Homo sapiens: one gene and its partner. The protein of the gene in region 1 interacts with the protein of each later gene in a pairwise test. Each region holds a gene or a part of one and is shown on either strand. Other genes may lie near its edges.

What was found.
Region 2: the proteins of OLFM1 (region 1) and TRAF3IP1 interact in a two-hybrid assay, tested with the Homo sapiens proteins (2 studies listed by BioGRID and IntAct).

Annotation. Positions count from the first base shown.
Region 1 is NC_000009.12:135,090,384-135,097,754, reverse strand, and holds part of OLFM1 (noelin isoform 4 precursor), read right to left. Parts: intron 1,892-7,371; coding exon 1,736-1,891; intron 1-1,735. UniProt on the Homo sapiens protein: Contributes to the regulation of axonal growth in the embryonic and adult central nervous system by inhibiting interactions between RTN4R and LINGO1. Inhibits RTN4R-mediated axon growth cone collapse.
Region 2 is NC_000002.12:238,393,182-238,400,552, reverse strand, and holds part of TRAF3IP1 (TRAF3-interacting protein 1), read right to left. Parts: intron 3,095-7,371; coding exon 2,874-3,094; intron 1,800-2,873; coding exon 1,634-1,799; 3' UTR 1-1,633.

The DNA of each region.
Region 1 (7,371 bases):
TGAAGAACTAGCTCACTAGCCTGCCTGAAACAGACAGCCATCAGGAAACACATATTTGCATGGTCAGTTAGAAAAATCCCACTGTAATGCTCGAGTTAGTCAAAACAAACTGCTTTAAGAGTTATTGAGATTCCCTCGTCACAATTTCTGTTGGAATTTTTTTAATGCGGTTTAGCACAGTATAGGCAAGCGCTTGCTTTTCTTCCCCCAGAGCCACAGCACCCCAAAATTGGAAACTCGGAGAGATGCCTGTGTCAACAACGTTTGCCAAGATGAGCTACCTCCCAGTTGCTGAAGACACCCCCCTCGTTAGAGGAGTCTGCTGGCCGCAGAGAAGGGAGTGCTGGCTCAGAGACATAAATGCTTTTTTGGTTAGACAGGTCAACATCTCTCCCTCCAGAGTAATTCATGATGACCAGCCAGATGCGAGGACAAAAATGTCCAACTGCCTCTGATGAGCACAATCGGCTCATTTCACCTCAACAGGATTGGGCCTGCTATTATTTTATTTATAATATAGATTTATAATTTCATTAGCTTGCCATTTCATCTATTTAATGTATCATTTTTAAAAGAGAATTAGTTCTTGCCTCATGCAGGGAGCACATCGAAGAAAAACATTAGCATAAAAAGGACGGGAAGACAGAGACAGAGTACACCAGCAGTTTCTAGTCGGGCGAGGCTGTGTAATTTGACCTGTTCATTTACATCTGGGCTGGATTTCTAATTAAAATGCATGTATACCTTCATTAAGGCGGCATATAACGTTTCAGTCGAATCGCACTGAGATGGAGTCAACTGTGGGCATCTCTCTACCTGGCTGCACATCTGTATCTATGATTTTAGGTCAAACAAACACCAGTTTTAATGTCCAGAGTTACCCGGAGAAGCAGAACACTTCCCACGAGGTGGAAAGGAGGCTGGCATCTCTCTCTTTTTTCCCTGCAAGTCTATGGTATGCTTTGTCATGGCTAGATTAGGTCAGATGTGAAAACTGCCCTGAGAGATTCCTGCTCCAGAATGGCCCTCATCAATTCAGCTAATCTTTGGCTAATGTGATTTACCTGCAGCAGCTGCAGAATGACAAGGGCCAATAACGATGTCCCTTCCCAGCTAATATTCGACTTGGCTCGGGCAGCGCAGGATCTCAGACCCCTGGCTTCCAAACCACACTGACGGGGGCTTGGGGGCGAGTGTATGCTGCTGCCACCACTCAGGCCGCCCCTGTCAAGGTGGCTTCTGCCAAGCCAGGGCCAGTGGTGGCCTCCCTACTGCCAAGGGCAACAGTCCTTTCAAGGCACAGAACAACCTTTGCTATGCTTCTCCCTGCCCCAAATGACCATTTCTGTAGGGAAAGGGAGAGCATGAAGGGAAAGCACACCCAGCCTCAGAGGAGGAGAAGAAGGAGAGGGAGGAGGAAGAGGAGGAGAAGAAGGAGAGGGAGGAGGAAAAGGAGGATGAAGAGGATGAGGGGGAAGAGGAGGAGAAGAAGGAGAGGGAGGAGGAAGAGGAGGAGAAGAAGGAGAGGGAGGAGGAAGAGGAGGATGAAGAGGGGGAGGAGGAGGAAGAGGAGGAGAAGAAGGAGAGGGAGGAGGAAGAGGAGGATGAAGGGAGGAGGAGCAAGAGGAGGAGAAGAGGAGGAGGAAGAAGAGAAGGAGGAGAGGAGGGAGGGGAAGGAGGAGGAAGAGGAGGAGGAGGAGGATAAGGGGAGGGAGAGGGGGAGGAACATGCATACCTTAAACTGCCTGGCCAGGTGTTGCTTATGACTCTCCTCCACCTGTTTGAACTTGGACTCCAGTCCTTTCATTTGGTTCTCCATCTTCTCCACGTACTGCAAGTCTCTCTGGGTCCGCCTGTCCAAGACCTCTATGGATTGAGACATGTTCTGCACCTGTCAAAAGGGCAACAGGTTCAGCAAAACAGCCGCAGTAGGTGCCAGGCAATCTTCTCTGCCTGCTCGTACAGACATTGCCCTTTCCCACACAGCCAGCACACTGGGAACCAGAAGTGGCCCATGCATTATTTACAAGGTAATCGCCAGCATCGCGGACTGTGAGGACTGATAACTCCCCAAACACAGCAAATTGGTTGGGTAAACATTTTCTTTGCCAACCTGTTCTTATCATCAGGGATGCAAATCAGGGGTGTAGGAGACTCAAGTTCCGTTATTCGCTGTAGCTCCAGGCACAGGCTGGGTGATTTCTCTTGATCTCTCTCTCTCTCTTTTTTTTTTTTTTTTGGTAGTGGTGGGTGGGGATTGTTCCTAGTCTTTCTGTTGCAGGACAACATTAGTTAGGCAAGCATAAACACCAGCAGAGAGGAATGGCACTCTTAGGCTGCCCCGCCCCCAGGTATAAATTCTCCTTCTTCCTAAATCTCATTGACTGTCTTGCTGATAAGGTTGATTACTTAAGTGCAGAGTGAAGGAACAAGGGAGCTGCTCTCCCTGACTCTGCATCAAGCTTTTTTCCCTATCTGCTATGCCATCCATCACACCCCACAGTATCATAGGTAGATGACTGCTCTGCAAACATGTACATTCTGAGCATAGAGTCAGGAATCAATCACCCAGCAAATGAAGAATCGCTGTTTTACATCTTTACAGGCAGATCTGAATTGAGTCTAGCCTCAAGATGGAACTTTAATATTCAACAGGATTCCAGGGAGCTTAAAAGAAAAACAGTTTTAGTGCAGCCACCTGCCAGTGCATTTTATTTGCAGGAAACTGGTGTGTGCTTCTGTGCAAATGCATTCGGGGCTGCGGGGAGGCGGGAGGAAGCTGAGGATTGCTGCAGTGGTGTTTGGGTCATTTTCTCAGAATCTAATCCAATTACTAGAGAGGAAGTTACCTCCATGACAGCAAATCTTCACTCCTGACTTTTCTGCTGAATTTGAAAATACTCTCCCTTCTAGGAACAAAATCATTTGGGGATGAGGCTTAGCTTTGCCGGTCAGTGTGAAAAGAGGACAGTGTGGTTTCTACTTCTTACTATACATCCTCCACCCCGCCAAATAAAGTAAAATACAAGAGAGCAAACCAAGCCTCCTCAGTAGAAGGAAAACCACTATTGCCAATCTCAGCACCCCAAAATGCAAGGAATTTCATATCTTGTTATCAGAAAGTAACACACACAAACTCATCTTGAAATTTTAAGTTTGTAAAGTACACGACGGGGTGGCTTCAGCTCCCTCTCACCCCTTCTCTTCCCCGAGAAACGGAAGCATACCTCTAATACCACCTGCCTGATTCTCTTGTTGTCTTCCTCTGTCACTTTGAATAACTACAGCACCTTTTTCAAGAAAAGATGTAAAGTTTGTCTATATTCGTCCTTCAAGGCCCAGCCCAAATGCCACCTCCTCCAGGGAGGCTTCTCTGATGGACTGAGTTAAAACTAGCTGCAAACTATTTGGAAACAACAACGTCACTTTGTTGGCACAATGTCTGCCTAGGAGTGAGCCACACAGCTGTCCCCCCACAGCTTTCCGGACAGGATGCTCATGGGGGGAGTGACACTGGGTCTCATCCACATCTGTAACCCCTGCACAAAGTCCAGTAAATCTAGTGCACGGGAGTAGCTCCTGCAGCCACATGGCCGGAGGAAGCAACAATACAAATGGCGGCGCCAGTCCAGACCCCTCTCTCCATTCCCCTCCTGGCAAAATCCCCAGGAGCGAAGGCCCACAAGTGCCGAGGAGAAGCTGCTGAGCTCATGCTGGCCTCAGTCAGGAGACCACACACGGTGCTGTAGGCTTTTTGCTCCCCAGAGAAGGAATGCTTTTAAAAGATTTCAAAGATTAGACTTTAGATTTAAAAAACAAATTTTAAAGATACCAAGCTATTCAGCTGCCTTAAAACCAAACAATTACTCTCCTATAGTTCTCCTAACCCTGAATGCACTTTCCTTTCTGGCCATGGACAAGGCACAGGCACAGGTCTGCCTCCAGCTCACAGTCAGTCTAGGACTGCAATCACGCACCCATCTCCCAACCCTAGGGAAGGCATTCCTCTGAGCACAGCCCTTCCTCTGAGCACCTTCATTTTCTTGCCTGCAGGATGTGTCTCTGAGGAGCCAACTGGCAGGCTCAGGGTCACAGAGCTACGGGATGACAGTCTATCCCACACCCTACCCAACGGGGCAGCAGGCATTAAGAAGCGGGAGGGGGGCCAGCAACACACAAAGACACACCTGGCCTCAAGATAACTAACAGCTAATAATTATCCATCCTTTCCCATGTTCCAGGCACTGCACTGAGTCTGCTGTGTTATTTATCTCATTTGATCTTTACAAAACCCCGGGAAATGAATAAGTACTATTTTGAGTCCCATTTTACACATAGGGAGACCAAGGCTCAGAGAAGTTAAGCAACTTGCTTACTGTCACCCAGCCAGGAGGCCTGCCAGTTCAAGCTGGACTGGCTCCAAAGCCTACACTCTCAAACCCAGAGCCAAGTGCTTCTTCAAAGAGAACGGAGCCCGTGCCACACGCCTGCCACTATCTGTGTCCCTACAGTGCTCGACCCTAGCTGCATGGAACTACCTGGTGAGGCTTCCAGGGCTGTACATACCTGGGTTCCCCACAGGGACCCCAGGGCAACAGAAATCAGAGACTCTGGAGGTGGGGCCTGGGACTCAGTACCTTGCAGCCTCACCAGGTGGGTTAAAGGTGAAGCCAGGGCACAGAAATACCGACCTGGCTGGAATATGCTCAGCTGTGACCCAGCCCTATCAACAGGGCACATGGGCTGAGGTTTCTGGAGCACCCTGTCCTGCTTCTGCCCATGAAGAGAAAGCAAGAGAAGAAAAGAGAAAGAGGAAAGAAAGAAAATAGCACACAGGCCAGGGTGTGCGGGGGAAGCTGAGGACGGAGCAGCGCTGCCTCCTGCTAAAATGCACAGTGCATTAAGGAGCAAGGGCCCTCTTTCATAGCAAATGGCTCATGCCCTCTGAAAATAGAGTGCCCGCTATGGTATCAAATGGGGCTTTAAATTTTTAAGCAGTAATGCTGTGGCACGCACAGGCAGGAAGGAACATTCCAGGGCCTGCAGTCCCAGGGGCTCATGGAGCATTCTGGAATCCATTTCCCAACTCTCTGCTCTCCCCGCAAATGCCTCCTCCCTGGGCTCAGGGCTCTGTTTTCCCCTCCTGACTCTCGCCGGCCCCCACAGCCCAGAGGCCCCTCCAAGTGCCGCCTCCCCCATCTAAGCTTCTGAATAATTAAAGGCTCAGTTAGGCTTTGGTCTAGTTTGGTGTTAATAAATGTTGGTGGAATGTTAAATGTATCTTACTTTAATTCTTTTAAAATGATTTACTCAGGTGGCTAAAGAAAAAACAAATTCTATTCCTTCAAGGTGAGCGTGCTTTACGAACTAGGCCAGTTGCCCTGCGTACCATGATGCATCCTTCTTGCCCAAGAAACAAGGGTCCTGTGGCCATTCCAGACAGGGACTGGGACACAGAACAGGCAGTGACTCGGACCTTTCAAGGCCCGTCAGAGCTGGGTGGGCACTCGAAACCTCTAGCCCACCCTCTCCTTCTCCAAGGAAGGGGACTTGCTTTGTCTCGAGCTTCCTGAGGGTTTGTGGTTCAGCACCAGGAATGTGGACCCGAGTCGGGTCAATGCTGTCCTCTCACCAGGCTGCTCCCACCTTCCCCAACGAGGTGGGCAGTGACAGCACCATCTGTCCCCCCAGCACGGAGCCAGCCCTGAGTCACAGAGGCCCCCCGCCCCTCACAGGCCTCCTGCCATACTCCTGAGCTGACGCCCATTCCAGAAAGTCCAAGGCCAACCTGCAGGAAGAGTCACGGCTTTACTATTGTGTGTGTGTGAACGTGTGTGACTATGTGTGTGTGTGTGTGACTATGTGTGAGTGTGTGTGTGACTGTGTGTGAGTGTGTGTGACTATGTGTGAGTGTGTGTGTGACTGTGAGTGTGTGTGACTATGTGAGTGTGTGTGACTGTGTGACTATGTGTGAGTGTGTGTGTGACTGTGTGAGTGTGTGTGACTATGTGTGGGTGTGTGTGACTATGAGTGTGTGACTATGTGTGAGTGTGACTGTGTGTGTGTGAGACTATGTGTGAGTGTGTGACTGTGTGTGTGTGACTATGTGAGTGTGTGTGACTATGTGAGTGTGTGTGACTGTGTGACTATGTGTGAGTGTGTGACTGTGAGTGTGTGACTGTGTGTGTGTGTGACTATGAGTGTGTGACTATGTGAGTGTGACTGTGTGACTATGTGTGTGTGAGACTGTGTGAATGTGTGTGTGACTATGTGTGAATGTGTGTGACTGTGTGTGAGTGTGTGTGTGACTATGTGTGAGTGTGTTTGTGAGTGTGCGTGTGTGTGGTGTGACCCCACTCCCTCAGGGTGGGAAAGTTCCCTGCCCATAGGCACTACATGCAAATGCACCTTTCTTCTGGGGAATCAATGGGTGGAACAGAAGGGCCCACCATTCCTCCTTGTTCCCTTGGTAACTCTCCTATGGGGCCCCCAGAACCCAGGTTAACCACAGAATACGGGGTCCTTGGGTGGAATGTGCCAAAAGGCTGGTGGGCTGTGCCCATTAGGAGAAGGCCCCCTGACTAAAGTGGGGAGTGGAGGAGACTGAACCAGGTGATGAGCTCGGCCATGTGGGTCCGAGTGCCCACTTCCCTACTAACAGCTGTTTGGCTTGGGACAAATAAGTCCACCCCTTGGGAGCCAAATTTCCTTTTCTTGAACTGGAGTGAAAAATCTCACCAACTTCACATGGTTCTTGTGAAGATTAAGTGAAATAACGGATTCAAAATATGTTATGCAAACGACATATGCAAACCTGCTGTTCCCATGTGGTTCTGAAGGTGACAGCATGGCCTGCTTTAGCCCCAGGAAGGCATTCATGGTGATGAGCACCTGTCCAGCCACTGGCCAGGTACAACCATTCAAGGGCAGAAAAAAGATCTCATCTCGTAAAATCCAAATGGCCATGCATTCCTGGGCCTATGGGCGCTCTCCAAGGTAGCTGCTGGGTGACAGCCCCAGCCCTGTGCACACAGATTATGACATCACTCAGAGACGAGCCTTGTGTCCCGTCTCACCATGCCCATGTGACTTCTCAGTGGAGCCTGTGGTGACAGGGGGCAGGTCTAGTCCTCTCTTCCTGGACCACCCTTGGAAGTCTCAATCCACCTGTGTGTCCACCCACCCATCCACCCATCCGTCCATCCATCCACCCACCCATCCACCCATCCGTCCATCCACCCTTTCACTCATTCACAAATATTTTGAGTGGAGACAAACCAGGAAAGAGTCAAAATGGGGCCTGCAAGCTAGCCAAGCCTTGGTGCTGGTGTGAGCACACAGGCATGTACACACACACACACACACACAAAC
Region 2 (7,371 bases), on another chromosome or scaffold:
AAGACCAGCGTTTCAGAATGGCAGATCTTAATAATCTGCTCCTGAACTTATTCAGCTCAGAAAATCATATAACAACCTGAGTACAGAATTTATTTTGGAAATTGTATGAAGAAAAACCCAACGGTGCCATTTGTGCTAATCCTTAAAGAAACAAAACCTGGCCGGGTGCAGTGGCTCATGCCTGTAATCCCAGCACTTTGGGAGGCCGAGGCAGGCGGATCACGAGGTCAGGAGGTGGAGACCATCCTGGTCAACACGGTGAAACCCCATCTCTACTGAAAATACAAAAATTAGCTGGGCATGGTGGCGTGCGCCTGTAGTCCCAGTTACTCAGGAGGCTGAGGCAGGAGAATCACTTGAACTCGGGAGGCGGTGGTTGCAGTGAGCCGAGATTGCGCCACTGCACTCCAGCCTGGGCGACAGAGTAAGACTCCATCTCAAAAAAAAAAAAAAAAGAAAGAAACAAAACCTTTTCAGGCAATCCTCACACTTTAAATGGCACTCCTCAGTTTACATAATAAATACACTATTTAAAAGTATTAGGACCCAGACCTCAAGACCCATAAGTATGTCTTCAAACACAATGAAATGTTTTATACAGTAACTTAAGACTCTGCTAAGTATTTACAATAGTATATGTAAGTGAAAAACTATAAACCATGTTTTTAAAAAACTTTTGCTTTAAAAAACAATTTCCAAAAAAATGGCTAACATCAAAAAACGTCGTAAATCAGTGCATCCTTTTAAGTCTTCCTTATGTTGTTTTTCCTAAGCTGCCTGTCTCTCGGTATGCACACCCATGCAAAGGAAAAGCCATGGCGCCAATGCTTTGCAGAGCGAGACCCTCTTAAGGAGAACAAGGACTCCGGGGGGCTGCGCTAGCCTCTGTCTGAGGAAAACCAGGGTAAACTGCGGAAGAAAGTGAGGATGTATGTCCAGACAACGTCCATAAAGGCCATCCTGAAATCTCCTTTTTAAATTTATGAACTTTAAGGACTAGAAACACAAGCAAACGATAGTAGAGATCAAGAGGAAAATTACATAGAGAAGTACATGCAATTACAAAGAGGTCAAAAAACAAAAATGAAAACAATCCAGTTGATAGGTACCTGATATGGAGACAGGCTGAGGTTAGCCCTTTCCATTGGAAATTAACTAAAAATATAATGTATTCATTTTCAGGCCTCATTCTACTTATCAAGTGCCTATCAAAAAGTACACAGTCATCCTTCATTCGGCACTGACCTCTGAAAGTCTTTCCACTAAACCAAAATAAAGGACTACTGTTCCCTTGGTATGCCCACACCACTTACCTGCTAGAGAGTTCTGGTACAGAACTAAACAGGTTACAGCAGAAACACAAAGAACAGGCTTTCAAAAAAACTTTTCACAGAGGTGTTTGGAAGCGCTATTTATAACTAGCCAGTATTCCATCTGGAAGGAGGTAAGAAAACATGGTTTTTTTAATACACTTAACATGCTTACAGTTTTAAAGCTCTGAAAATTAGCTGGATAATAACATTGTAAACTGTTCATTTTCTTAGCAAACTGGAACTTAAAAGAGTAATGATTTTCTATCTTCCTTTTTGCTTTTAAACTGAGGTGACTTTTCATCTCTGAAACTTTTGAGTGTTCACCTTCTCGAAGTCAAATTGATACTATATACCATTTTCTGGATTTTTTCTTCATTCTTGAGGATGTTGGCCTTCACAGCACAGATCTTGTCTTGCTGGTCTTTGATCAGCTGCTCCAGCTCCGCGAGCTCAGCCTTTAAGGGCTCCACGGCACAGTCTGTGATCCTGAGGGAGAACAAAACCAGCGGCTCATCACTCTCTCATCTCATTGTGTGTTGGCTTCTTAATTAAGACATTGAAAGACAACAGAAGTAAATTATTCGTTTCATCCAAAGAAAAGGATAATATTTATTTCTTATTTTCACAACCCCTGCTACAACCAAAAGTGAAGTCAAACATGAGATTTATAAAAGCAGCAGTTAATATTTCTTCAATGATAATCTTGAAGTCCTTAAATTACATACAGAACAACCTCTGGGACAAGGAGGTATGCAGCAAAGTCCCCATTGACTTTGGGGATCCCCCCTCCACTACCCCCCACCTATGTTCCTGCCGCAGGGCCTCTTCCCCATTACTGCCCCACTCCGCTACACCCCTACCTCTGCTCCTGCTGCAGGGCCCCCTCCCCATTACCCTCCTGCCCCACCCCAACCTGTTCCTGCTGCAGGGCCTCCTCCCCCATTACTCCCCCCACTCCGCTATCCCCTACCTGTGCTCCTGCTGCAGGGCCCCCTCCCCATTACTCCCTGCCTCTGCTACCCTTAACCTCTGCTCCTGCTGCAGGCCTCCTCCCATTATCCCCCTGCTCCCCCCCACCTCTCTCCTGCTGCAGGGCCCCTCCCCATTATCTTCCCCTCACCTCTGCTCCTGCTGCAGGGCCCCCTCCCCATTACTTCCCCTCACCTCTGCTCCTGCTGCAGGCCCCCCTCCCCATTACTTCCCCTCACCTCTGCTCCTGCTGCAGGGCCCCCTCCCCATTACTTCCCCTCACCTCTGCTCCTGCTGCAGGGCCCCCTCCCCATTACTACACCCCACCTCAGCTCCTGCTGCAGGGCCCCCTCCCCATTACTACACCCCACCTCTGCTCCTGCTGCAGGGCCCCCTCCCCATTACTACCCCTCACCTCTGCTCCTGCTGCAGGGCCCCCTCCCCATTACTACCCCTCACCTCTGCTCCTGCTGCAGGGCCCCCTCCCCATTACTACCCCCCACCTCTGCTCCTGCTGCAGGGCCCCCTCCCCATTACTACCCCCCACCTCTGCTCCTGCTGCAGGGCCCCCTCCCCATTACTACCCCCCACCTCTGCTCCTGCTGCAGGGCCTCGGCGTGCTGCCTGTTCTCGCTGTGCCACATCTGCAGCTCATTCTGCATGGCATCCACGTCTTCCTGGATGTAGTCCATGATCTTCCCCAGGGGAAGTGCGCTCTTGCACAGGGTCTGGATGGACGTGCGGAGCTTCTCTATCTCCTTGGAAACGATGTCCTTCTCCTTCTTCCATGCCGACTCAAAGAGAGATCGCTCCTACAGTCAGGGAGACATAGGAAGAGGAACACGCCTCCTCAGTCCAAAGGCAGAACAGGGCCGGTGCACTCAGCACACGGCCATGGGGCTGGGAGGAAAGGCGCAGGCAGAGACAGTGCTGGTTGTGGGACACTCACTCCCATGCAAAGGGAGAGCCATGCTGCCTAACAGAGTAACTCTGAAGTGCTGCACGCCATCAGAGGACACAGCACTGCCAGGGAGGGGCCGCTCCTTCCCTGCTCAATGGGGATGGGGGTCTGTCTTTACCTGGAAATCCATCTGAGGGCAAATCTCTATACAGGCAGATTTCAGTTCCCAACTAACAAGCAACTTTTGTAGCTATTGTTACAAGAGCTTAGTGACATGGAAGATTTTTCCCAAATGGACTGGCAGAATGAGGGCCTGACCCTACAGCTCTTCAAATGGCCCACCTTCCATCCCAAATGACTTCAAAACCCAGCTTGCCAGGGGGCAAGGGGAAAGAAACCCAAAGGAGAGGCAGAAACTGGTGCCATGGAAAGGAGGGCATGGAGAATGTGCAGGGCAGCCAGCGCCAGCAGCAGCCAGCAGCAGCCAGCAGCACCCAGCAGGCAGATGGTCAGGTCGACTTAGACGTGACTGTGCTGGCCGCTCAGGGAGGCCACAGAGTCCAGGGGTCAGGGGCCAGATGGAAGGGGTCAAGTTGAGACAGCAGCAGGTGAAGGAGGTGAGGAGGACGCAGAGACGAGTGGGGAGCTGCATGCGGTTTGGGCCAGGAGTTCTTGGGTTCTTTGCCATGCAACATTTAGAATTCTCTTCATATGAGCTTTGATCACAGACATCTCTGAATGTCAGAAACTGATGTGAGTTGATAAGAATCAATAAGCTTGGGAAAATTAACATCAGTTCTTTCTCCTTCTTTCCTTTTTTTTTTTAATTTTTTTATTATTATTATACTTTAAGTTTTAGGGTACATGTACACAATGTGCAGGTTTGTTACATATGTATACATGTGCCATGTTGGTGTGCTGCACCCATTAACTCGTCATTTAACATTAGGTATATCTCCTAATGCTATCCCTCCCCCCTCCCCCCACCCCACAACAGGCCCCGGATTGTGATGTTCCCCTTCCTGTGTCCATGTGTTCTCATTGTTCAATTCCCACCTATGAGTGAGAACATGCAGTGTTTGGTTTTTTGTCCTTGCGACAGTTTGCTGAGAATGATGGTTTCTAGTTTCATCCATGTCCCTACAAAGGACATGAACTCATCATTTTTAATGGCTGCATAGTATTCCATGGTGTATATATGCCACATTTTCTTAATCCAGTCTATCGTTGTTGGACATTTGGGTTGGTTCCAAGTCTTTGCTATTGTGAATAGTGCCGCAATAAACATACGTGTGCATGTATCTTTATAGCAGCATGATTTATAATCCTTTGGGTATATACCCAGTAATGGGATGGCTGGGTCAAATGGTATTTCTAGTTCTAGATCCCTGAGGAATCGCCACACTGACTTCCCCAATGGTTGAACTAGTTTACAGTCCCACCAACAGTGTAAAAGTGTTCCTATTTCTCCACATCCTCTCCAGCACCTGTTGTTTCCTGATTTTTTAATGATCGCCATTCTAACTGGTGTGAGATGGTATCTCATTGTGGTTTTGATTTGCATATCTCTGATGGCCAGTGATGATAAGCATTTTTTCATGTGTTTTTTGGCTGCGTAAATGTCTTCTTTTGAGAAGTGTGTGTTCATATCCTTTGCCCACTTTTTGATGGGGTTGTTTTTTTTTTGTAAATTTGTTTGAGTTCATTGTAGATTCTGGATATTAGCCCTTTGTCAGATGAGAAGGTTGCGAAAATTTTCTCTAATTTTGTAGGTTGCCTGTTCACCCTGATGGTAGTTTCTTTTGCTGTGCAGAAGCTCTTTAGTTTAATTAGATCCCATTTGTCAATTTTGGCTTTTGTTGCCATTGCTTTTGGTGTTTTAGACATGAAGTCCTTGCCCATGTCTATGTCCTGAATGGTATTGCCTAGGTTTTCTTCTAGGGTTTTTATGGTTTTAGGTCTAACATGTAGTCTTTAATCCATTTTGAATTGATTTTTGTATAAGGTGTAAGGAAGGGATCCAATTTCAGCTTTCTACATATGGCTAGCCAGTTTTCCCAGCACCATTTATTAAATAGGGAAACATTTCCCCATTGCTTGTTTTTGTCAGGTTTGTCAAAGATCAGATGGTTATCTTCTTCCCTTTCTTTCTTCTCTCTCTCTTTCTTTACAGCCAGGGTCTCACTATGTTGCCCAGGCTACTCTCAAACTCCTGGGCTCAAGTGATCCTCCTGCCTTGCCCTCCCAAAGCGCTGGGATTACAGATGTAAGCCATCATGCCCTGCAACACTGTTTCTTTAGGAAGCCCTCCCTGGACACCCCCCCACCCACTCCAGACCGGTAAGGGGCCCTTCCTTGCCTCACCCACTTACAGAATGAGCTAGTAAATGCACTCAGTTGTAACAAATCAACTTATTTAATTTGAACGTATCATAGCTACATATTCACTTGCATTACTTCTGCTAGTTTCAGACTGTGGGCTCAGGAGGGCAGGACCTTGTGCCTAGATTCACTGTGATTCACATAAGCTCTGCCTAAGAATTTGTGAAATGAACTAATGAAGTGGATAAATGATTTATGTATGAAGATCCTAGTTCCACCATTTACTGGCTTGGACAAGTACAAGAAAGCTTTAGCATAATGCCTGGCACATAGAAAGTGTTAAATAATTGGGACTTTAAGTAAAACGTAAAACTCATACAACTAATAAGTGAGTTCAGCAAGGTTGTAGTATACAAGATGAGCATATGAAAATCAACTATATTTCTATGTATGAGCAATGAAAACATGGACACTGCAATTAAAAATACAATGCCATTGACAATTGTTCAATAGAAGACTATCCTTAGTTGTAAATCTAACAAAACATGTATAGGACTTGGAAATGGAAAACGAAACAATGCAGATGAAAGAAATCAAAGGAAATCTAAATAAATGAGAAGACACACTGTGTCCATGGAATGGAAGACAGGACACAGTAAAGACATGAATTTTCCCCAAACCGATACGCATGTTTAATGCAAATCCTACCAAACTTGCAGCCAATGTTTTTGTATAGACAAGATTATCCTAAAATGTATACAGAAAGGCAAAGGAACTACAATAGCTAAAACATTTTCAGAAAAAGAATAAAGACAGAAATAACCAGTCTACCCAATTTCAAGGCTTTTTTTTGAAACGGAGTCTCACTCTGTCGCCCAGGCTGGAGTGCAGTTGTGTGATCTTGGCTCATTGCAACCTCTGCCTCCCAGATTCAAGCGATTCTCCTGCCTCGGCCTCCCAAGTAGCTGGGATCACAGGCGCACACCAGCATGCCCAGCTAATTTTTGTTTTAGTAGACATGGGATTTCACCATGTTGGCCAGGTTGGTGTCAAACTCCTGAGCTAAGGTGATCCTCCCATCTCGGCCTCCCAAAGTGCTGGGATTACAGGTGTGAGCCACCGCGTAGGCTTCAAGTCTTTTTATACAATTACAGTAATCAAGACAGTGCAGTATTGACAGAGGGACATAGATCAAATGAACAGAACACAGAATCCAAAAGTAGATCCATACGAATATGTCCATATGCCCAAGCAATCTTTGACAAAGGTACAAAAGCAATTTAGTGGCAGAGAGAGCTTTGCACCATTTGGCACTGGGTTAAGTGGACATCCATAAGCCAAAAAACAAACAAAACGTTGACCTAATCTCATATCTTAAACAAAAATTAACTCGAAATGGACTATGGATTTAAATATAATCTATAAAACTTTAAGATAAAAAACACAGGAGGAAAAAGTCTTTGGGATCTAGGACTAGGCAAAGAGTTCGAAGACTTGACACCAAAAGCATGACAAAAATTTCAAATGTTTGCTCTGCGAAAGACCCTGGGAAGAAGCCGCAAAGGTAAGTCACAGAATGAGCAAAAACAACTGCAAATCACACATCCAATAAAGGACTTATAGCTAGAATATGCAAAGAACTCTTAAAACACAACAGCAAGAAAGCAAATAATTCAATTAGAAAATGGGCAAAAGACACATTTCACTGAAGAAGATATAAGGATGGCCAACACACACATGAAAATATGTTTGAAATCATTAGGCATTAGGGAAATGCGAATTCAAACCACAATGAGCCATCACCACACAACAATCAGAATGGCTAAAATAAAAAATAGTGACAACACCAAATGCTGGTTAGGGAAA